Linked DNA regions of Homo sapiens. The protein of the gene in region 1 interacts with the protein of each later gene in a biochemical or structural test. Each region holds a gene or a part of one and is shown on either strand. Other genes may lie near its edges.

Evidence for each region. Proteins that work in one complex are often made in the same cells at the same time.
Region 2: the proteins of APBA1 (region 1) and RGS12 interact in a test that uses a peptide from one of them, tested with the Homo sapiens proteins (one large-scale study listed by IntAct).

Annotation. Positions count from the first base shown.
Region 1 is NC_000009.12:69,514,383-69,519,621, forward strand, and holds part of APBA1 (amyloid-beta A4 precursor protein-binding family A member 1), read right to left. Parts: intron 2,898-5,239; 5' UTR 2,829-2,897; coding exon 1,629-2,828; intron 1-1,628. UniProt on the Homo sapiens protein: Putative function in synaptic vesicle exocytosis by binding to Munc18-1, an essential component of the synaptic vesicle exocytotic machinery. May modulate processing of the amyloid-beta precursor protein (APP) and hence formation of APP-beta.
Region 2 is NC_000004.12:3,309,789-3,314,559, reverse strand, and holds part of RGS12 (regulator of G-protein signaling 12), read right to left. Parts: intron 1-4,771. UniProt on the Homo sapiens protein: Regulates G protein-coupled receptor signaling cascades. Inhibits signal transduction by increasing the GTPase activity of G protein alpha subunits, thereby driving them into their inactive GDP-bound form.

The DNA of each region.
Region 1 (5,239 bases):
GAGTTCAAGCCCAGCCTAGCCAACATGGTGAAACCCCACTCCTACTAAAAATACAAGATTAGTTGGGCATAGTGGATGCGCCTGTCATCCCAGCTACTCAGGAGACTGAGGCAGGAAAATCACTTGAACCTGGGAGGCGGAGGTTGCAGTGAGCCGAGATCACACCATTGCACTCCAGCCTGGGCAAAAAGAGTGAAATTCTGTCTCAAAAAACCAAACCAAAACAAAAAAAATTGCAGAAACCGGCCAGGTGCTGTGGCTCACATCTGTAATCCCAGCACTTGGGGAGGCCGAGGTGAGTGGTTCACTTGTGGCCAGCGGTTCGAGACCAGCCTGGCCAACGTTATGAAACCCCGTCTCTACTAAAAAATACAAAAATTAGCTGGACGTGGTGACACCTGCCTGTAATCCCAGCTACTTGGGAGACTGAGGTAGAATTGCTTGAACCTGGGAGGCAGAGGTTACGGTGAGCGGAGATTGCATCACTGCACTCCAGCCTGGGTGACAGAGCAAGACTCCGTCACAAAACAAAACAAAACAAATAAACAAAACTGCAGAAACCCCTGGCGGAAAAAGGCTTGGAAGGCTATCCTCCAAAGAGGGCACACTACCCATCCCAGATCTTCAAGGGATTGATATAAGGCAGTTCTCAAATTGTCGTCCTGGGACCAGGAGCATCGCATGAGAACTTGTTAGTGACAACGTTGAACTTTACCTGAGAACCAGAGAAACAAAATGAAGAAATACCCCCAACCTTTTGTGTTCTGGGAAACTCCTTCTTTTCTGACACAGAGCAGGGATAGGGATGCTCCTCTTGTTTTCCTATGACAAGGCCAGACGCAGACCCTCCACATTCCCATTCTTTCTTCACAAACGATCAGCTGAACTGCTTGCTAACCAAACTTTGGTTAAGTGTCTCTCCTTCCTCCAGGTGCGTGAACTTTGGCCAGCATACAACCACTCCTGAGAAAACGCTGGTCTCAGGTGGAAACATTCTCTGATCCACAGCACATTCAACTCCCACCCTTTTCATGCCACTTTCACATACCCTATTCTTTCTACTTGGCTACTCCTCCCTATAAAACAACTTCCCCCTTGTACCTAACTCTAGAGACCCTTAAAGATCTTAAGGTCAGAGGTTCTCATATGGCAACAGTCCTTCCTCCCTAAAACGAAACAGTATCTTTCTCCCCTTTGCAATAATCCTTTCCAGTGAAGTCTCTCCTTCCTCAAGCATGGCTTGTTTTTTATTTGGCATTAGAAATACAAATTCTCGGGCCCCACTCCATACTTTCTGAATCAGAAACTGGGGGGGGGGGGGGCGGGGGGTGGAGGGCGATGTACCCAATAATGCATTTCTCACAAGGTCTCCAGGCACAGTGTGGGAAGCACTGATTTGAGGCCATCCTGCTAAGAATCTGATGAGTGCATTCAACACTTTAATTCTCTCCCGCTGGCGTTTGACAGTTTAGGTGCAAGCTGTTTCTGAGGCTTACGGTGGAAAAGTTCTTAGCGTCCCCACAGACTACTTCCCGTAAAGTCACTACCCAAGGGCACACAAGGCCATGGGGCGCCATCTTCCCTCCCACCGCGTGGGGCCGAGGAAGCCCAAACCCGCACCTACTTACATCTCCGTCCATCGGCCTCTGGTCGTCACAGTCCCTGGTGGGGCTAATGTCCTGGCGCATGACCCAGATGGGCTCTTTGGGCTCGTCGGGGGTGTAAGGCGAACGGATGGTCCTGGTTTTCACCTCCTCGATGGCCTCCTTGATGTCCTTGATGGCCAGCGAGATGGCATCGCGCTTCTCCTTGCTGTACCGCTGCCCCGCCTCGCCGCCGCCCGCGGGGCCCACCGCCCGCTGCTGCCCCGCCGGCGCCTGCAGCCCGGGGCTGTCGGGGCGACCCCCGGCCGGGGTAGGGGGACGCTCCAGGTCCTGCTCGGCCTCAGGCATGTCCTCGGCTGCCTTGTCGAGGCTCTGCGAGCTCATGCTCTGCTTCACCTCGGCCACTATCTGGTCGATGTCCTCCTCCTGCTCGTAGCTGTCCATGCGCGGGTAGGGCGCGAACTCGGCCTCCTTCTCGGGGCTGTCGGACTCGCCGTCGGAGCGCTCGTCGTAATGGTGCAGCCGCGCGCCCAGGGCCTCCTGGCGGTACGCGGCCGCCTCGTCGCGCTCCTGCTCGTAGAGCCGCAGGCCGTCGCGTGCGTCCAGCTCGGGCGCGTCCCCTATCTCCTCGTACACGTGCTCCTGGAGGCCGCCGTAGTCGGCATAGGGCTCGGAGTAGGGCTCGTCCTCACCGCGGTGGAAGAGCCGGTGCGTGTAGACGTAGCCTGAGTAGGCCGCATTCATGGCTTCCTCGTGCTCCAGCGAGTGGAAGTGCAGGTGGTTGGGCAGCGCGCGGCGGTGCGTGGCCTCGGCGTGCTCGGCCTCTGCCTGCTCCGTGTACTCCTCGGCCTCGGGCCGGTACTGCACAGCATAGGCGCTCTCGTCCTCGGGGTCCTGCGCGCGCTCCGCATCGTAGCCGTCGCGGGCCGCGGCGATCACGTCGCCCTCGGCGGTGTCCGTGTGGTTGTGGAAGCCGCTCTCCGTGCTGGCTGAGCGCGCCAGGCATTCCCCGCGCTCCTCTTCCTCCTGGCCGAGCTGGGCGCGGAGGTCCTCGAGGGCTCGCCCGCGCTGGTGGCGGCCCACATAGTGCTGCTGCTGCGGCGGCTGCTGCTGTTCCTCTTCCACCTCGGGGTGCTCCAGGTCGGCCTCCACCGACTCGTTCACCTCCCCACCTGCCGCCTCGTCGGTCACCTCCACCTCCGCAGACCCCTCCAAGTGGTTCATGGTGGGAGTCGGAACGGCTAGGAGAGAAGCTGGGCCCGGCTCACTGCGCTCTCATTTTGCTCCACTGGGCTGGAAAAACAAGAAGGGGAGAGGCTGTCACGTGGTGCAAACAGTCGTTATGAGCTGAGTATTCAGATAACCATAAAAACAACTGCTATTGATTCCTTTTAGTTCTGGGTCAATTAAAAAAAGACTGCAAATTTAAGTTCAATCTGACAGCACATACATAGCACGCATCATAATTTGTAATTACATATCTACTTGTTTAATTGCTTATTGCCTTTCTCCGTTCCCACCCCTCACACTGAGCGCCTCAGGAACGTTTTGTTCTCCACCACGCATACGATTCAGGTCCCATTTCTGATGCATCTGAATAAAGAGTACTACTAAATTGAATGGGCCAACTGACACATTTTCCATCTGCTAACAGATAAATCTCTCCAAATTAAACTAGGATCCTACAACTTTAGAAATCACTCTTTACATCAATTTCAAAGAAACATAATCTTGAACACCTTTTGAAGCCATTCTGAGAGAGGCTATCAGCCAGCAGTGGGGTCCCGCCCCGGTTCTGTCATTACTGACTTTGTGACCTCAGGCAAGTGGCTTAATTTTCTGGACCTCCACGGTGTGACTGGACTCATTTCCTACATGCAGGATGTTAACAGCTATTATATAGGGTAAAAAAGACTCGGTGGTCAAGTAAGTTTGGAAAATGCTGAGTTACAGTTGACTTTTCATTGTTAATATCCAGAAGGAGGAAGATGCAGGACACAGGGTTTCCCTAACTTGTTTGACCAGGAGACACTTTTTCCTAGAGGCCAATGTTACATAGCAGCTGGTTTCTAATAGTTAGGCTTCCCTATTGCGCACTCAGCATCCAGGATACAACCAACCACGGAAGACAATATTAGGGGAAAATATCCAACACAATACAACAATAAAAAATAATGCAAGTAAAAATACAGTATAACAACAATTTATATAGCATTTATATTGTATTAGGTATTATGAGAAATCTAGAGATGATTTACAGTATATGGGAGGATGTGCATAGATCATATGCAAATACTATACCATTTTATAATGGATTTTTATATCCACTGGGGTCCTGAAACCAACCCCCATGGATACCAAGGGAGGACTATATTCACTTTCCCCATGTAACCTGAATCTAAAATTCTAAGATTTTATGAGTTGCCATTATAGCTAGAACTGGATAACAGGTGTAATTTTTTAAAAATATGGGTAGGTCTCTTTCTATTTTCAGAGAAACTTGTAGCTCGAGAGAAAGATTTGGTTTCAGTCTCTCTCAATTCTTCTTATCACAAAATAGCTTTATGGTATAATCTGTGCAGTATATAGAAATAGACACAAAGAATGTAAACAACCACAACAAAACAGGCAGGACCCCTATGATTTTGAGATCCCTATGGTAAATAGGCTCAACAGTATGTGTAAACTTGCTATTATGTTCTTTTGGAGAGCCTTTCTTACAAATGGACACAATGGATGGGAAGTGAACTCTTAAATATGATAACAGACAACCCCAGGAGGACCAGGGACATCTGATGGACTCTCTAGTAGTGAGATGCATTATATTCTACTCAACTCCCCATCACAACCACAGCAATTTCCTTCAAGCATTGATGACCATCCCAATAACAAAGGAGATCATTTTGGAGCTACCAAGTCCACATTCAAGCAGAAGTATCATGTCTTCCCCATTCTTTGATGGATCCACCCCTGACTGATTCTCGCTAGAAGAAAAGAATCACGGTTTACAAGAGATGAACAATCTTTATTGCTTCGCTACTTGACATAAGTCCCACTTGATACAAATTAGACCCAACCTCTTTTGAAAAATTTTGGGCTCCTCCCATTAACTCCTGAGAACAGCGACTGTGGACTAAGTATAAGAAAGTCTCCAAAAGCAAGTATGAATCTCCCTTCAAACCTTGATGGATGGTTAAGGCTGTAAACCAGCAGCAGGGTGGGGTGGGGAATGATTAGAAGCTGTTCCACCTCAGATCATGAGGCATTAGTTAGATTTTCATAAGAGTGCATGACCTAGATCCTTTGCATGTGCAGTTCACAATAGAGTTCATGCTCCAATACTGGTCCATGGCCCAGTGGTTGGGGACCCCTGCTCTAAACAGAAGCAGCAAGTGTTGCTGCTACGGGCCTCCAGTGGATTATAAGAAACACAAAACAAATATTCAATTCAATACAACACATGGACAAGAACATCATACCCAAGTTGCCTTCATAAGGACTTTCTCAAAAAGACAACAGATAAACCTTCATTAAATCTACATTGGGTTCTTAAGGTACAAATCTAATTCTAATAAACACAAAGTGAGCATTCACAGAAAGGGATAGCAAACATATCACAGACTTTCTTGGGTTCT
Region 2 (4,771 bases), on another chromosome or scaffold:
ATGGTGGCGGACGCCCGTAGTCCCAGCTACTCGGGAGGCTGAGGCAGGAGAATGGCATGAACTCGGGAGGTGGAGCTTGCAGTGAGCCGAGATCGTGCCACTGCACTCCAGCCTGGGTGACAAAGCGAGACTCTGTCTCAAAAAATAAAATAAAATAAAATAAATAATTGTTTTAAAGTTAATAACTTCTAATAGAAAAGATTTTTGTGTCTTGGGATAAAGTTTCCAGCAATAGGATCATAAACAGATTTGAAGTAATTTACACACATAAAAGCTACAGAACTAGATAGAGTGGAAAGGCTATTACTAGGTGACTCCAAAAGTGGCTTCAGTGATGACAAAACACGGACACAGAACATGCGTACTTAGTAAAATTATGTTTTGATGGAAAAGAGTAAAAAATGAATATAAATTACATTACTCAATATCTAAGTAGTACTGTATTAATAATTTAAATATTAGGACTGGGCATTTAACTATTTAAAATCATTAAAAAATGAATTTAAAAAATAAAATAATTAAAATTATTTTATAATTTTTTAATAATTAAAAATTATTAAAAATCATCATTAAAAAATAAATAAATAAATGTAAAAGTTGGCCAAGAAACACGTCTGGGGATCGATCTTCTTAAGAGGTGTGACAGGCTGGCTGATGGCCCCTGATACACCCACATCCTCACTCCCAAGCTTTTGGATGGCTCCTCCCATCCACGTGACCACGTGAAGGCTCTAGAGATGGGGAGAGTGTGGGGTGCGCCTGTGTGAGCCTGGGGTCAGAGCCAGAGGGGACGGCCACATGAGGAAGGATGCGGAGACTGCAGGGATTCAAGGATGGGTCTCGAGCCCAGGCAGACGGGCAGGCGGTCACCTCCAGAAGCCGGAAAGGTGAAGGAAGCAGACTTAAAGTCACCAGAGGAACCAGCTCTGCCACACCTGCCATCAGCCAGGTCACACTGACTGCAGACACGAGGCCCCCGAAAACGCAGGAGAATGAATGTGTGTTGTCTTAAGCCCCCCAGTTTGCAGTAATTTCTTTCAGCAACCCCAGGAAACAAATACAAGGGGGAATCACTTTGTCACGGGTGAGGGGAGAGGGAAAGCAGGACATGCGTGAAACGGTCTCACTAAAGCACGCTCAGAAAAGCATCTGTCACACAACAAAGGTGCTGCTGTTCCCGGCAAGTGCCAGCTATCACTGTGAACAGCCCCAGGACAGCAGGTCATGAAGCCTTGATGGCTTCCTCGGGGAACAGAACACCTCTCGGCTTTCTCTTCCAAACAGGAATAGATGCTGCCTCAATGAAAGACATGACTTCCCAGTTTATTCGCACCATCCGCCTCACACTGTGTGACATAATGATGGACAATGTCTTCTATGCAGTCCACCCAATTTTTCTACTAGACTCTTACTGTCATGGGCCTCTGCTTATTAAAAAGAAATGGTTTGTAACTCATGTAAGTAATATCTTATTATCTATAATCACGTTTCTTTGTTTTTATTTTTTAGAGACAGGGTCTCACTCCATTGCCCAGACTGGAGTGCAGTGGCACAGTCATTGCTCGGTGCAGCCTCAAACTCACTCCTGGGCTCAAGCCATACCAAGCACACCCCCATACTCGGCTAACTATTTTTTTTTTTTTGGAGAAAACTGTATTGAGATATTTTAAGTCACGTATCTAATATAAAACCAGTTTGCATTGTTTCAGCTTGTCTTCCTTGGAACCTGTGGTTGCCCTTCACCTCCTTCTGGCAATTTAAATTGCTCTGATTTCGGCAGAATATTCCCCGGACATCAGGACCATCTCCACATTCATCCCAGTCTTTGAGACAGCTCCCGGAGATCAGCTTCCTGGTCAAGCACAAGAATCTCAGCAGCACCGTGATCTTCCTCTCTCTCCTGGCCAGGTAAGACCCCGACTTTCAGGTGGTGGTTCCTCTTGCTGAGGCTGCTCATCACTGGGCTCAAGCACAGGCCCAGTTAGCTCAGGAGGCTGCACATACCGTCTTGGTCTAAGCCTACATGCTGATCTTCCTTGCCAACTCATATTTCAAACGGCTGCTTCTCAGTAGTGGGTAAAGAGTCCAGAACGCAGGAACGCAACCCTCACACCCTCACAGGTCCACAGTGTTCACCACGTGGGCAAAGGGGCCAAGGAGAAGACACCCAGTGAACCTTGGCTAATGTTTTAATTTTTCTGTAGACGAGGTCTCACTATGTTGCCCAGACTAGTCTCAAACTTCTGACCTCAAGCAATCCTCCCACCTTGGCCTCCCAAAATAATCACATAAGTTCAGCTTATAGTTTAATTTTTTTTAAAACTGTATCAATTAATAGTAAAGCTAGCAGAACAGACAGTGAAATTTAGAAGACCATGGGGTACTGGATTCCAGCTGAACTTCCATTACACCATCGGGGCTACCAGTAAGAACGCCTGCTCCCAAGCCCCTGCACCTCCCAGGGACTCTGACTTAGTAAGTCTGGGGCAAGGCCAGGAAGCTCCAACTTCCCCCTACACACCTTCCAGCTAACTCTGAATCACCTTGACTGGAGATCATTTAACCCAGCCTCTTCACTGTGTGGAAAAGGGAACAAGGTCCAGCCAGAAGTAATTCATCCAAGCCCTGAGGCACAGATGGGATGTGACACGAAGGTCCCCACTCGCCGCACAGCACTGCCACCTCCCATCAGGAGTCACCGACCACGTCACACAGGCTGAGTGTCCCTTAGAAGAGATTTTTGGGACCAGAAGGGCTGTGGATTTTTTCTGATTCGGAACATCTGTATATACGTAATGAGATATGTTTGGATAGGACCCAGGTCTGAACAGGAAATTCATTTATGTTTCATATACACCTTATACACACAGCCTGAGGGTAATTTTGTGCGGTACTTTTGATAATTTTGTGCATGAAACAAGGTTTGTGTACACTGACCCATGAGAAAGCAAAGGTGTCACTAGCTCAGCTATGCCTGAGGTGCCACATCGGTGTCAGAGGGTTTCCGATTCTGGAGCATCTGGATAAGGGATGCTCAACCCGCACTGTCACTCCTTCACTCATTCATCATTAAAAACTCATGGTGTAAAGAGGACAATAAAACAAAACAAAGAAAAAAAACTCAGGGTGATCTAGAAATAAATATTGCTGCCATGACACTTTTCTATTCCCTTCTAAAGTTAAAACCTCCTATAAAAGGTCCTGTTCTGATAAACTCCTCCACTCATGCCGGGCAGCACCCAAGACCTGCAGGTACAGAGATGGGTCCTAGGCCTGAGCTACGATGCAGCAGGCCCCGAGCGAGGCAGGGCTGGAAAGACCAAGCCAGCACCCGTCCGCACTGCCCGTGCACACAGTGTGAGGCGAGAGAGACGCCGTCCTCCGAAGGCAGAGAGAGTCTGGGGGCACCGAGAAGAAGAGAGCAAGGCACAAGAACAGCACAACATCAGCAATCACGGCCTCCAGGGTGACCCCACGGGCTGCAATGGCAGCCGCCACGGCCAGGACTTGCTGTGCAGCGCATGTCATCCTAAACACCATCATCGCTCTGAGGAAGGCTCTGTTACAATTCTCGCGTGCAGATGAGGGAGTGGGGGCACAGAGAAGCTAAGTAACTTGTCTACCAGCACACAGCCAATTAACGGCAAAGGTGGATTTGAACCCAGGCTATTCTTGGCTTACCCACACTTACGTGGATGCACAGAGGAAGGGCCTGAGACAGCAAGACACCACGCCACCTTCTCCACCTGGGACCTGCCCCCGCAGGCGCCTGCCCACCTCACACCCTCCCATAGTCATCATGTCCCAGCAGCCTCCCCCCACCACCACCTCACAGTGCCCACAGCTGCCGAACACCCACCTGGCACCCCCCTCCCACCTCATCAGGGACACACACACCAGACGATCTGATACCCGCCCCATGCAGACCCGCACTGGCCATCCCTGCATCCAGCCACCTCCCATCATTCACCTGAGAGGCCCTCCAAGTCCCTGGCCACTCTTCCCAGACCTTCCCTGGACCCAGAGCAGCATGGACCTGCCCGCCCTGGACACAGCAGGACACGGTGCCAAAGGGAGTGAGCTGGCAGATTCTGGAATCACCAAGGCCACTTCCAGGCCATTTTACTGAGCCACCAGTCAATACCTCTCCACACTTCCCTTCTTGGGGTGCAGCGTGGACTGGAGACAGCCCTTGCCTTGGCCTTCCAGGCCCCAGCTCCTCTCCCGCCCGGTTCCCCTCAGAGGACACCTGCCATTTCCCGGGTCCCAGCTCCTCCCCGACACGGTTCCCCTCAGAGGACACCTGCCATTTCCCGGGTCCCAGCTCCTCCCCCACACGGTTCCCCTCAGCGGACACCTGCCATTCCCGGGTCCCAGCTCCTCCTCAACACAGTTCCCCTCAGCAGACACCTGCCATTCCCAGGCCCCAGCTCCTCTCCTGCTCAGCTCTCCTCAGAGGACACCTGCCATTTCCCGGGTCCCAGCTCCTCCCCCACACGGTTCCCCTCAGAGGACACCTGCCATTTCCCGGGTCCCAGCTCCTCCCCCACACGGTTCCCCTCAGCGGACACCTGCCATTCCCGGGTCCCAGCTCCTCCCCTGCACGGTTCCCCTCAGCGGACACCTGCCATTCCAGGGTCCCAGCTCCTCCCCTGCACGGTTCCCCTCAGCGGACACCTGCCATTCCCGGATCCCAGCTCCTCTCCCACCCAGTTCTCAGCAGACACCTGCCATTCCCAAGTCCCAGCTCCTCCTCAACACGGTTCCCCTC